2 separate regions of the Homo sapiens genome follow, and region 1 is linked to region 2. Evidence: fine-mapped expression QTL. A gene starts in region 2. The other region holds a variant in brackets. All regions are shown on one strand. Distances are from middle to middle. Region 1 overlaps ALOX5AP (arachidonate 5-lipoxygenase activating protein). Region 2 holds the start of LINC00398 (long intergenic non-protein coding RNA 398).

What was found. PIP is the estimated chance that this variant, and not a neighbour inherited with it, causes the effect.
Region 1: its variant is fine-mapped to the expression of LINC00398 in whole blood (INTERVAL, PIP 0.92).

Annotation. Positions count from the first base shown.
Region 1 is chr13:30,764,018-30,769,394 of GRCh38, forward strand. It overlaps ALOX5AP (arachidonate 5-lipoxygenase activating protein), which reads left to right. Exons shown (of 5, transcript NM_001629.4): 5 at 1-409. The coding sequence ends at 89. Among named protein-coding and RNA genes, the nearest start is that of ALOX5AP, 31 kb to the left of the region's middle. The variant G/C (reference allele first, on the strand shown) is at 2,479.
Region 2 is chr13:30,801,017-30,806,393 of GRCh38, forward strand. It overlaps LINC00398 (long intergenic non-protein coding RNA 398), which reads left to right and starts at 2,190. Exons shown (of 2, transcript NR_047012.1): 1 at 2,190-2,576. RefSeq lists a silencer at 1,965-2,084 and an enhancer at 4,243-4,743.

The DNA of each region.
Region 1 (5,377 bases), 37 kb before region 2:
ATTACCTCATCTTCTTTTTCGGAAGTGACTTTGAAAACTACATAAAGACGATCTCCACCACCATCTCCCCTCTACTTCTCATTCCCTAACTCTCTGCTGAATATGGGGTTGGTGTTCTCATCTAATCAATACCTACAAGTCATCATAATTCAGCTCTTGAGAGCATTCTGCTCTTCTTTAGATGGCTGTAAATCTATTGGCCATCTGGGCTTCACAGCTTGAGTTAACCTTGCTTTTCCGGGAACAAAATGATGTCATGTCAGCTCCGCCCCTTGAACATGACCGTGGCCCCAAATTTGCTATTCCCATGCATTTTGTTTGTTTCTTCACTTATCCTGTTCTCTGAAGATGTTTTGTGACCAGGTTTGTGTTTTCTTAAAATAAAATGCAGAGACATGTTTTAAGCTGATAGTTGAGGGGTTTTGTTAATGGCTTTTGGGGGATTTATCTCTATACCCACAAACGACTAGTTTGTTTTCCTCAAACTAAATGATAATATTAAAAATACACATCCTGGCCAGGTGTGGTGGCTCATACCTGTAATCCCAGCACTTTGGGAGGCCGAGGCAGGTGGATCACTTGAGGTCAGGAATTAAGACCAGCCTGGCCAATATGGTGAAAGCCTGTCTGTACTAAAAATACAAAAATTAGCCAGGTATGCTGGTGGATGCTTATAATCCCAGCTACTTGGGAGGTTGAGGCAGGAGAATTGCTTGAACCCGGGAGGTAGAGGTTGCAGTGAGCCAAGATCATGCCACTGCACTCCAGCTTGGGCAACAGAGTGAGACTCCATCTCAAATTAAAAAAAATACACATCTGGCTTCTGGAAAAATTACTTGAAGATCTTTTATGACATCCATCCCTCTTCACACAGCCATGTGAATTAGGTTGGTATCTTCATATACTAGCATCGTGCCCAGCACTTCCATGTTATACAGTTTAAAATGTTCTGTAATTCCCTGTGGGAACCTAAGATAATGCGAGGACCGTCATACGTGCCCCCAAATATTGGCAAACCAATGAATAAATGAATGAATGAGTTTATGAATCGCTAACTGGCTGTATTTAATGAAGTATGTGTGTTGAGCCATTTCCCACAGTGTGGACAGATTTGTCCCACAATATGGGCCTCTTCCCAAAGGCCCTACCACCTAATGCCATCACACTGGGGATTTGATTTCAACATGTGAATTTGGGGAGAGTGCAAACACTCAGACCATAGCACCATCTCAGTAAATGTCCCACTGGTCACTCAGTTCATAGTGACAGTGATCCAGCCACTGTCATGACAGGTGCCACTTGGCAGAAACAGCACAGCTTGGAAGATGGCGGGGTGTAGTCAAGATTCCAGGATCCCCAACAGAGAAGCCAGCTCTTATAGGGGAGCCATTCATCAGGATTGAACTCTCAATCGAGCTGGACAGTAATAGGTGGGTCTGTGTTATTCCCCAGATGAGTATCATGACAGTCACAATCCTAGGAAGGATGTGAAGCCTCCCCCAGCTCTCCTCCAGTTGCCTGCTTGGGCAGCAGAGATGATGGAATGTGGAGTCTGGCGTGGTCTGAGGCCTGAATCCATGTGCCTCATGTATGATGCTCAGGCAAGAGGATCTCTCAATTCAAGGGAGAGGGCCTGAATGAGCCTTGCTTTCCAGGCCTGTCTGATGGTCCAGGCTGAAGCCCCTCCTGGCTTGCACTGCCAGACCTCATCCAGCAGGAGCTCCTTGGCATTGACTGCTTCAGGATAGTTGCTTCTGCTCTGAGTGCTCTCTAAAGAGCAGTGCTCTACCATCCAAGCTGGGCTTTTCTTTTCTTCTTGCTGATAGGGAAGGCATGGGACATTGCAGGATGGAAGTGGCCCCCAGGCCTTCTCATGCCTGGGCTTGGTTTGGAAGGTGGTCAGGTGATCAATAATCCTGATTGGCCTGGCATTGAGGAGTTTTCCTGGGATGTGGTCCTTTCGGTTTTTTAAAAATTATTTTTATTGATACACATATTTGTAGGTATTTGTGGGGTGCATGTGATACTTTATTATGTGTGTGGATTGTGTAATGATGAAGTCAGGGCATTTAGGGTCTTCATCACCTTGATTATCATTTCTATGTGTTGAGAACATTTCAAGTTCTCAGTTCCAGCTATTTTGAAATAGACAGTCCATTTTGTTAGCTACAGTCACCCAACCCGGCTGTCAGACATTGGAACTTACTCCTATTGAACTGTGTATTTGTACCCATTCACCAAACTCTCTTTGGGCTTTCAGTTTTACAACTGGGATGATCCTGGGAAAACTAAAGTAAATCAGACACCCGACGTGTGAGCTAGGTTATAATATGCCCAGTGGACCCTGGGGACATCTTAGCTTTCAGAGGTCATGCTGTCCAAGCTGACTGTGGGGCTTCCAGAAGGTGGGGAGAGGAAATGATGCAATGGCCCATCAGAGGCACTACTTGGGGCCTGGGGCCAGAGTGCATGTCTAAG[G/C]CATTAAGGGGAGGGGAGAGCAGCCTTCATAATTATGAAGAGGAGTCTCAGGTGCACAGCTTCTGATGAGGGACAGCTTCTAATTGAAGACAGCATTGTGTAATGCTCAAACTCCCTGTCTTCAGAGTGCCTGCTGTATCCCACCATCAGTTCTGTGACTTCTCCCTAAGCCTCAATTTTGCATGTGTTACATTGGGATAATAATAGTGCCAAACTCATGGGGTTGTGAGGAATAATGAGGTAAAGCAATTGAAAAGGTTTAGCACAATATAAGTGCTCAATAAAAGCCATTATTATTATTTTATTACACTAGTTTTCAATTCCTGCATAGCAAATTCTTGCAAATGTAGGGACTCAAAACAATATAAATTTATTATCTGACAGTTTTTCTGGGTCAGAGGTCTTACTAGGCTGTAATCAGAGGGCAACCAAAGCTGTGATCTCAGCTGAAGCTCAGGATTCTCTTCCAAGCTCACTGGTTGTTGGCAGAATTCAGTTCTTTCCAGTTGGAAGACTAAAGCCTACAGTCTTCAGTCTCTAGAAGCCTTTTCTCTGGCACAGGTTTCTCTACAACATGGCCATTTATGTCTTTAAGGCCAATAGGAGAACATGATTAGCATATTTTTTTTAAGTGAACTTTAGACCCTTTTTTAAAGGCCTATCTGATTAGGCCAGGCCCAAGTGAGCTTTAAGTCAACTGATTAGAGATCTTAATTACATCTGCAAAGTCCCTTCATGTTTACCGTATAACATAACTTAGTGAAAGGAGTGAAATTGCAACCAGGTTCTGCCTGCACTCCACGGAAGGGGATTCTGCAGAAGTGTGGGTCACGGGGGGGTTATTTTGGGATTCTGCCTACGTCACTGAGTCAAAAGAAGCTGAATGGTTGTGATGCTGAGGTTTTTGGGCAGCAGCAGTGTGTGTGTGTGAGTGAATTCATACGTATGACCACCTGGGAAGAAAGGAGGCTGTGGTTTCCTCCACCTCCTGGCAGACAGAGAAATTTCTTTTTTTTTTTGAGACAGGGTCTGGCTCTGTTACCCAGGCTGGAGTGCAGTGGCTTGATCTCTGCTCACTGGCTCACTGCAGCCTCTGCCTCCCAGGTTCAAGTAATTCTTGTGCCTCAACTCCAAGTAGCTGGGATTACAGACACACACTGCCACGCCTGGCTAATTTTTGTATTTTTAGTAGAGACGAGGTTTTGCCATGTTGGCCAGGCTGGTCTTGAACTCCTGACCTCAAGTGATCCGCCCACCTCAGCCTCCCAAAGTGCTGGGATTACAGACGTGAGCCACCATTAACCATTTTTCTATCTCCTGTGGGAAAGGGCACAGTGAAAGAACAGATGAAGCTGAGACATACAAGTGAACTCCTCCCTCCTCTCCATTTAGACTAAAATAGGATTATTCATACTGAGATTCTCCCTGGTTGCAAAGAGATAATCTGTGCAACTGGGTTTTTACAATTATCCCTACCCTATGCTTTCCTCATCTGTCTTCCTCGTAGTCAGCTCAGGCTGCTATAACAAAACACCATAACTGGGGGCTTTTGAACAACAAAACTTTACTTCTCACAGTTCTAGAGGCTGGAAATCCAAGATCAAGTTTCTGGCAGATTCGGTGTCTAATGAGGTCCTGCTTTCCAGTTTATAGACAGTGCCTTATCGCTACCGCCTTACACAGTGGAAGGAGAGGACGAGAAGCTCCTTGGGCTTTTTTTTGTTTCTTTCTTTCTCTCTCTCTCTCTTTTTTTTTTTTTTAATAAGGTCACTATCTTAGTCCATTTTGTGTTGCTAAAAGGAACATCTGAGGTTGAGTAATTTATTTTATTTTAAAAAGTGGCCAGGCATGGAGGCTTATCCTGTAACCCTAATCCTTTAGGAGGCCAAAACAGCAGGATTGTTTGAGGCCAGGAGTTCAAGACCAGCCTAGGCAAGATAGTGAGACCCCATCTACCCCATCTCTACTAAAATTTTAAAAAATTAGCTGTGTGTTGTAAAGTGTGCTTGTAGTCCCGGCCACTTGAGAGGCTGAGGTGGGTGGAGTTCAAGGCTGCAGTGAGTTATGATTGAGCCACTGCACTCCAACCCGGGTAACGGGGCAAGACCTTGTCTCTATTTAAAAAAAAAAAATCTTTATGTGGCTCACTATTCTGGGTGGCTGGAAAGTTCAAGATTGGGCATCTGCATCTGGTGACAGCCTCATGTCGCTTCCAGTCATGGGGGAAGACGAAGGAGAGCTGGCACGTGCAGATATCACGTGTTGAGGGCAGAAGCGAGAGAGAGAGGGGAGAGATGCCAGGCTCTTTTTAACAACCAGCACTGGGGAAACTAATAGAGTGAGAGCTCACTGACTCCTGAGGGAGGACATTAATCTATTGATGAGCGACCTGCCTCCATGACCCAAACACCTCCAACGATACCCCACCTCCAACACTGCCACACTAGGGATTAACTTTCAACTTGAGATTTAGAGGGGGGAAACTTACAAACTATCGCAGGCACTAATACCACTCATGAGGGCTCCACCTTCATGACCTAATCACTTCCTAAAGGCCTTACCTCTTAATCTCATCACATTGAGGATTCGATTTCAACTTGAATTTTGGGGGGACACCAACATTCAGGCCATAGCATCATCTCAATAACTGTCCCATTGGTGGTCACTCAGGCCCCAAACAAAGGAACCTTCCTCCATTCCTTTCCGCCCTCCCACCCACAGTCAATCATCCCCAAGCTCCATCAGCTCCACCTTTAACGGCCAACCCACCTCTGCCACATCTCACCATCTCCACTGCTATCCCTGTCACCTGGGCCCACCATTCTCTCTCCTGGACAGTCTCCATAGCCACCTCTGTCAGATTTATTTTATTTTTTTATTTTTTTTTTTGAGACAGGTT
Region 2 (5,377 bases):
TGCAAAAGAGAAAAGTCTAGAAGATACTAGTCAGAGGTGTCTGAGTCAAAGGTTAATCAAAATTAAAGGAAATAGTAAAGAAGTAGTATAGGAAAATGTCACCACTTGGGAAGGCTGGCAGAGAATTTTAAAATCCTCTTTTCCACAAAAGATTACAGGTAACACACATTCATGAGTCCTTTGACCCAATGCAAGGTCACAGAGAGAATGTATCTGACACCTATTTTATTTGTGTTCTGCTCTATTCCAAAAAGGACTTAAGGTGGTTTGAAGAGGAGGAGACATAAAATAAAAGTTAAATATGTACTAAAAGCCTGAGCAAAAAAGAAAGGAAAGAAAAGAGTGGCAACATAAAATAGAGGCTGGAACAAGGTGAGGGAAATTAAAAGCACACCGTGCAGGTTGATATGGTTCCTTCCTGTGGGCCGTGAGTTTGGCTCTAGGAGTTAACTGGGAAAGGGAAACAGATGAATATTAAACATAAAAGCAGATCGATTGCTTAGGAGACCACTATTTTTGGAATCCAGGAATGGTAGGCCTTTCTCCTGCAGGCCTTTCCCCACCATCTGTATAATGTACTAAGCCACAGCCCTAATAGCATAATAGCATCCTGTATCTGATGTGGCCTCAAGCGGTTCAGAATTTGGAACTGTGGATCTGCTTAGGACTTCAGTTTCCTTGTTTCATAATCTGCTCCCGAATACCCCATATCTGGGCATATTCTTATTTGATTCAGGTCTGCTGTGGTCCAGATCTGTAAGACTCTGCCCTGCAAACAGACAGTATAGAAAATATCATCAGTGACCATATTATTTAACCTCCACATTATCACCCACATCCTCATGAGTGTGAGGGTCCAAATGGTACTGATAAGAAAAGTTAGTAAGAGGCAAGGTCACCTGCAGTGTCTGGGGTAACAGACACCACATCTCTGCAAGCCCCAGCCTTCAGCCTGCCAGGTGGAGGGGCAGACTCCATCTGATCTCAGAAAATTTGAGAACCGTCCAGGCACAGTGGCTCACACCTTTAATTCCAGCACTTTGGGAGGCCAAGGCTGGTGAATCACTTGAGGTCAGGAGTTTGAGACGAGCCTGGCCAACATGGCGAAACCCCGTCTCCACTAAAAATACAAAAATTATCCGGGCATGGTGGCACGCACCTGTAGTCACAGCTTCTCGGAGGCTGAGGCAGGAGAATTGCTTGAATCCTGGAAGCGGAAGTTGCAGTGAACTGAAATCATACCACCGCACTCCAGCCTGTGTGACAGAAACAGACTCTGTCTCAAAAAAAAAAAAAAATTGAGAACCTTCCCAGGGCCCACCTACAGTTGACTCTTGAGTAATGAAGGCTTTAGGGGTGCCAATCCCCACACAGTTTAAAATCTATATACAACTTTTGACTCCCCCAAACTGAACTACTAATAGCCTACTGTTGACTGGAAGCCTTATTGATAACATAAATAGTCGATTCACACATATTTTGTATGTTAATGTATTATATACTATATTCTTACAATAAAGTAAGCTAAAGAAAAGAAATTGTTATTTAAAAAATCATAAGGAAGAGAAAGTATATCGACTACTCATTAAGTGGAAGTGGATCGCCATGAAGGCCTTCAGCCTTGTGGTCTTCTGAGTAGGCTGAGGAGGAGGAGGAAGAGGAGGGGTTGGTCCCGCTTCTCAGGGGTGGCAGAGGCAGAAGAAGGTCCACCTCTAACTGGACACACACAGTTCAAACCTGTGTTGTTCAAGGTCAACTGTACACGCCACCGAGACCAGAATGGGTGGTTTGATATTTGTCAGTGGCAACAATTCAATATTCTATCCTTTAGATGTTTTCTCACTCTGGTCACATTTAATGTGTTTAATTGATGCTGTGTGGAAGTTTCTTCACGTTAGAGGATAAATAAGCCATTCCCTTTGATAGGAGCCTGGGGCTTTCCCTGCGAGGAGGGCACTTTGGGAGCAGCCTTCTCATTAGAGGGCAATTAGCCGGGCTCCCGCACCCGGTGCCCTGAGCGGGGCTCCTGAGTAGGCAGGGCAGACGCGCCATCTAGTGGCAGCTCTCAGGACGTCCACACGCCTGCTCCTGCGGGCTCCCGCGCCCTGGGGTGGCAGGCACCGGCATGCTAGAGGTTAACGAGGAGGTTCCCTCCTTCCAGCGTGGATGAGCCTTTCCGTGAGGGTGACCGGAAAGGCGCCTGGGCTGGTGACGGTGTCAAGTGTAGGCAAGAAATACGGCTGATCAAGAAGCGACTTCACCTCCCTCGCACAACACTGAGTCCCTTTGCGGCAGGGGCCCTCCCCGCCGCGAACCCTACTTGGAACCTTGCGCCATGCGATGTCTCTCTCATTCTAGGCCACGGAAGCCCTGGGTCACCCTTTCAGCCTGGTTCTCTCCGGTGGTGCTGGCTTGTTTCTCCTGTCTGTTGGGGTCAGCTGCGTCCAGCCTCGGCTCCTGCAGGATTGCCCGGGCAACCCAGAGGAGATGGGCGGGCGTGGAGGTCCTCCCTGGATGACCCTTCCCACCATTTCAACATCATTAGGAATTTAACAGGCTTTTGCAAGAAGGCCCAGGTACGCATCCCCCCATTTATAGTAGGATTTCCAGGACAAAATGTATTCCACTCTCTAAACAACAAGCAACATGTATACAACCCATTCATAAGGTAAAGATTCCCTTGCCTACACCTAGCTTCTCCTGCCCAAGCATGGCCTTGTCGTTCTCTTCCCCAGGTCAAGTTCAGGACCTAGCAGCTGGGAATGCACATTTTCCAAGTTAAGAGTGGAAGAGTCCCAGCTTGGCTTAGATGGAGTCACATATAGGATTCAGGTTTGCCTTGGCAGGTCTGATGGACCTTGGTGAGGGTCCGCCAGCAGCTGTGCACAGCAGCTGCCCAGGGCCATGCAGCAGGCACCGCACTCCCCTTCCAGGAAGGATTCCAGGCCCAGCTACAAGGAGCGTGGCTACTGACAGCTGTCCACTCACAGCTCGTCAGACTAAGCTTCAGCTTTCAAAAAGGACTGTGCCCTCCTTGGGCTGGCCCAGGCCCACATAAGAGCAAGGCAGTGGCCCAAAGGCCTGGCATTTCTGCCCACCACGGGATTCCTCTCCTGGGTGGTCTGTGCTCCAGAGCTCTCTGTGGGGCTGGCTTACTTCTCCCCTGGCCCCTCCACAGGAGTTACTCAGCTATAGCCCCTCTGCACACATAACTCTATCTGGGAGCCTTTCCCGGAGGATGCAACCTAACTGGTTGGCTCATCCTATAGAAGCCAGTGTCCTTGACTTTTTCAGGTGATGAACCTCTTTTGAGAGGATGCTGATAACTGTAAGCATCTTCCCAGGATTTGCACATGTCCAGTGTTAGAGTGCAGGTCCCCCAAGGCCATCCCACGGGCCTTCACAGGGAGTCGGGTTGAGGACTTCTGACTGAAGGAGGTGGGGAGGAGGCGAAGTCGGGGAATGAGGAAGATGGGGCTGGGGGATAATAACAGGGCTTCCGGCAATGGAGAGGAGGGTTAATTCTCATTTCTGACTCACAGCGCAGCCTCCCATGAGTTCATGGATTCTGTGGGAAAAACCAAAAGCCAATTCCCTCAAGTGCTATGTCAGGCCCTGCAGGCAGGTGGCCGGCGGTGGCCCCATATGGCTCTGGCACAATGAGGGCTTCAGAGAACAGAGCTGCCTCTGCCTGGGGAGTGCCAGTGGCATCAGCAGCAGGGGTGGTGCCCAGTCACCCATGTGGCAGAGGCTGGCTGGGCACCGTCTCCTCTGGGTAACATGGTGCCCACCAAGCCCTGGAAGCAAGGCCTCCCAGCACCTTTGCAAGCAGCAGATATCATCTAGCAATGTCCAGCTGGATGGAAAGAAGATACAACAGCTGGAAAGTGGCATTGGCTGACCTCCTCCAGAAAGTCTCTTTCCAAAATAATTGGCAAGGGTTTCAGGTGTTAGATGTTCTTCACTGACAGGTGGAGAAGGAGCTAACAAAACAAGATTGTGCAGGAATGAGAAGTCGTATTTAGGATGTACGACAGCAGACACACAGCACACACACACACACACACACACACACACACACACACACACACACACACACCAGGGGCTGTTTTCAGCACTCACTTATATTAATTGATTTAATCCACATACAGCCTCATGTGCTAGCTCCTATTATTATCTCATTTTACTCTCAAAAAAACTGATGCACAGAAAGGTTTAGCAGCCTGCTAAAGTCACGCAGCTGAAAAGTGGCAGAGCTGGGATCTGAGCCAGGAAGCAAGGTACAAGGTCTGTGCTCTTCATCTCCTTCTATGCTGGCTGTATGCTTGCTAGCGGCCATGAACTTGGACCTTGGGGTGGGAGGGCTCTGCGTTCATTCCCAGCCCCCCTTGTTACTGGCTGTGTGATTTCAGGTCGGTTTCATTCTTCTCTTTGACTCAGTTTCCTCAACTGAGTGTAAAATGATAGTGATCCTACCTCATAAACATGTGTGAGGCTTAAATGAGCTAATTATGTAAAAGATTTTTGCTGCCACACAGAAAAATGCTTAGTCTGACATTGAATATATATGAAATTTTTGGATCTGCGCCACCCACAGAACTCAGAGTAGGTTCTTTAAATAAACTTCTGCCCCAGACTCCCAGGCCAGCCCAGCCACTGAAGGCACCAAGACAGGAGCCCTGTGTCCGCTCCAGCCCTGAGGCTCCGGAAGCCAGGCAAGAGCATTTCCCGGTGGATTCCTGGCTGGGCCCAGCCTGGGGCCTCTCAGTGCTCCTGGTAGCCTTGCATTTTCTATCTTCAAGGGAAGCTTGAGTGCTGGAAGCCTGCCCGCCCCTGCACATTCCTACCAGCGCCTGAAATCAATGATGCCCTTGTTCTCCTTGGAAGCGTTGGATGTGTGGGAGAAGGTTGAGGGCACACTGTCATCCCGCCAAGCTGTCTGGAAAGCTGGAGGGTGCATGAAAGGCTGGGGAGCACCCAGTCCTGCATAGGTACCTCCTGCTTCAAATCAGCCAGATCCAGGGACTCACACCATGGCATCAATGTGAGGAGCACTATAAGAGGATACCCTTCTAGTGGGTTTCAAAGCACCTGATTAATACAAATGTAATCAACACGAAGCTTTTCTACTACATATTCTTTGTGTAAAGCCATATGCACTCACATTCAGAAATACTAAAGATCAGGTCTAGAAAAATATTCCTACAGGCAGAAAGAAGAGAGAGTCCAGTTCTAAACACAGGGAAGGGTTGAAGAAGCACAGTGGGTGAGGGAGAGCCCATGTGGGTGGGAGAGGATGAGGGCACAGGTGGATATTGTTTTAAAATTTGGTAGTGGCAAATTGGAAGCACAATGTAATTTCACTTACAATTTGCCT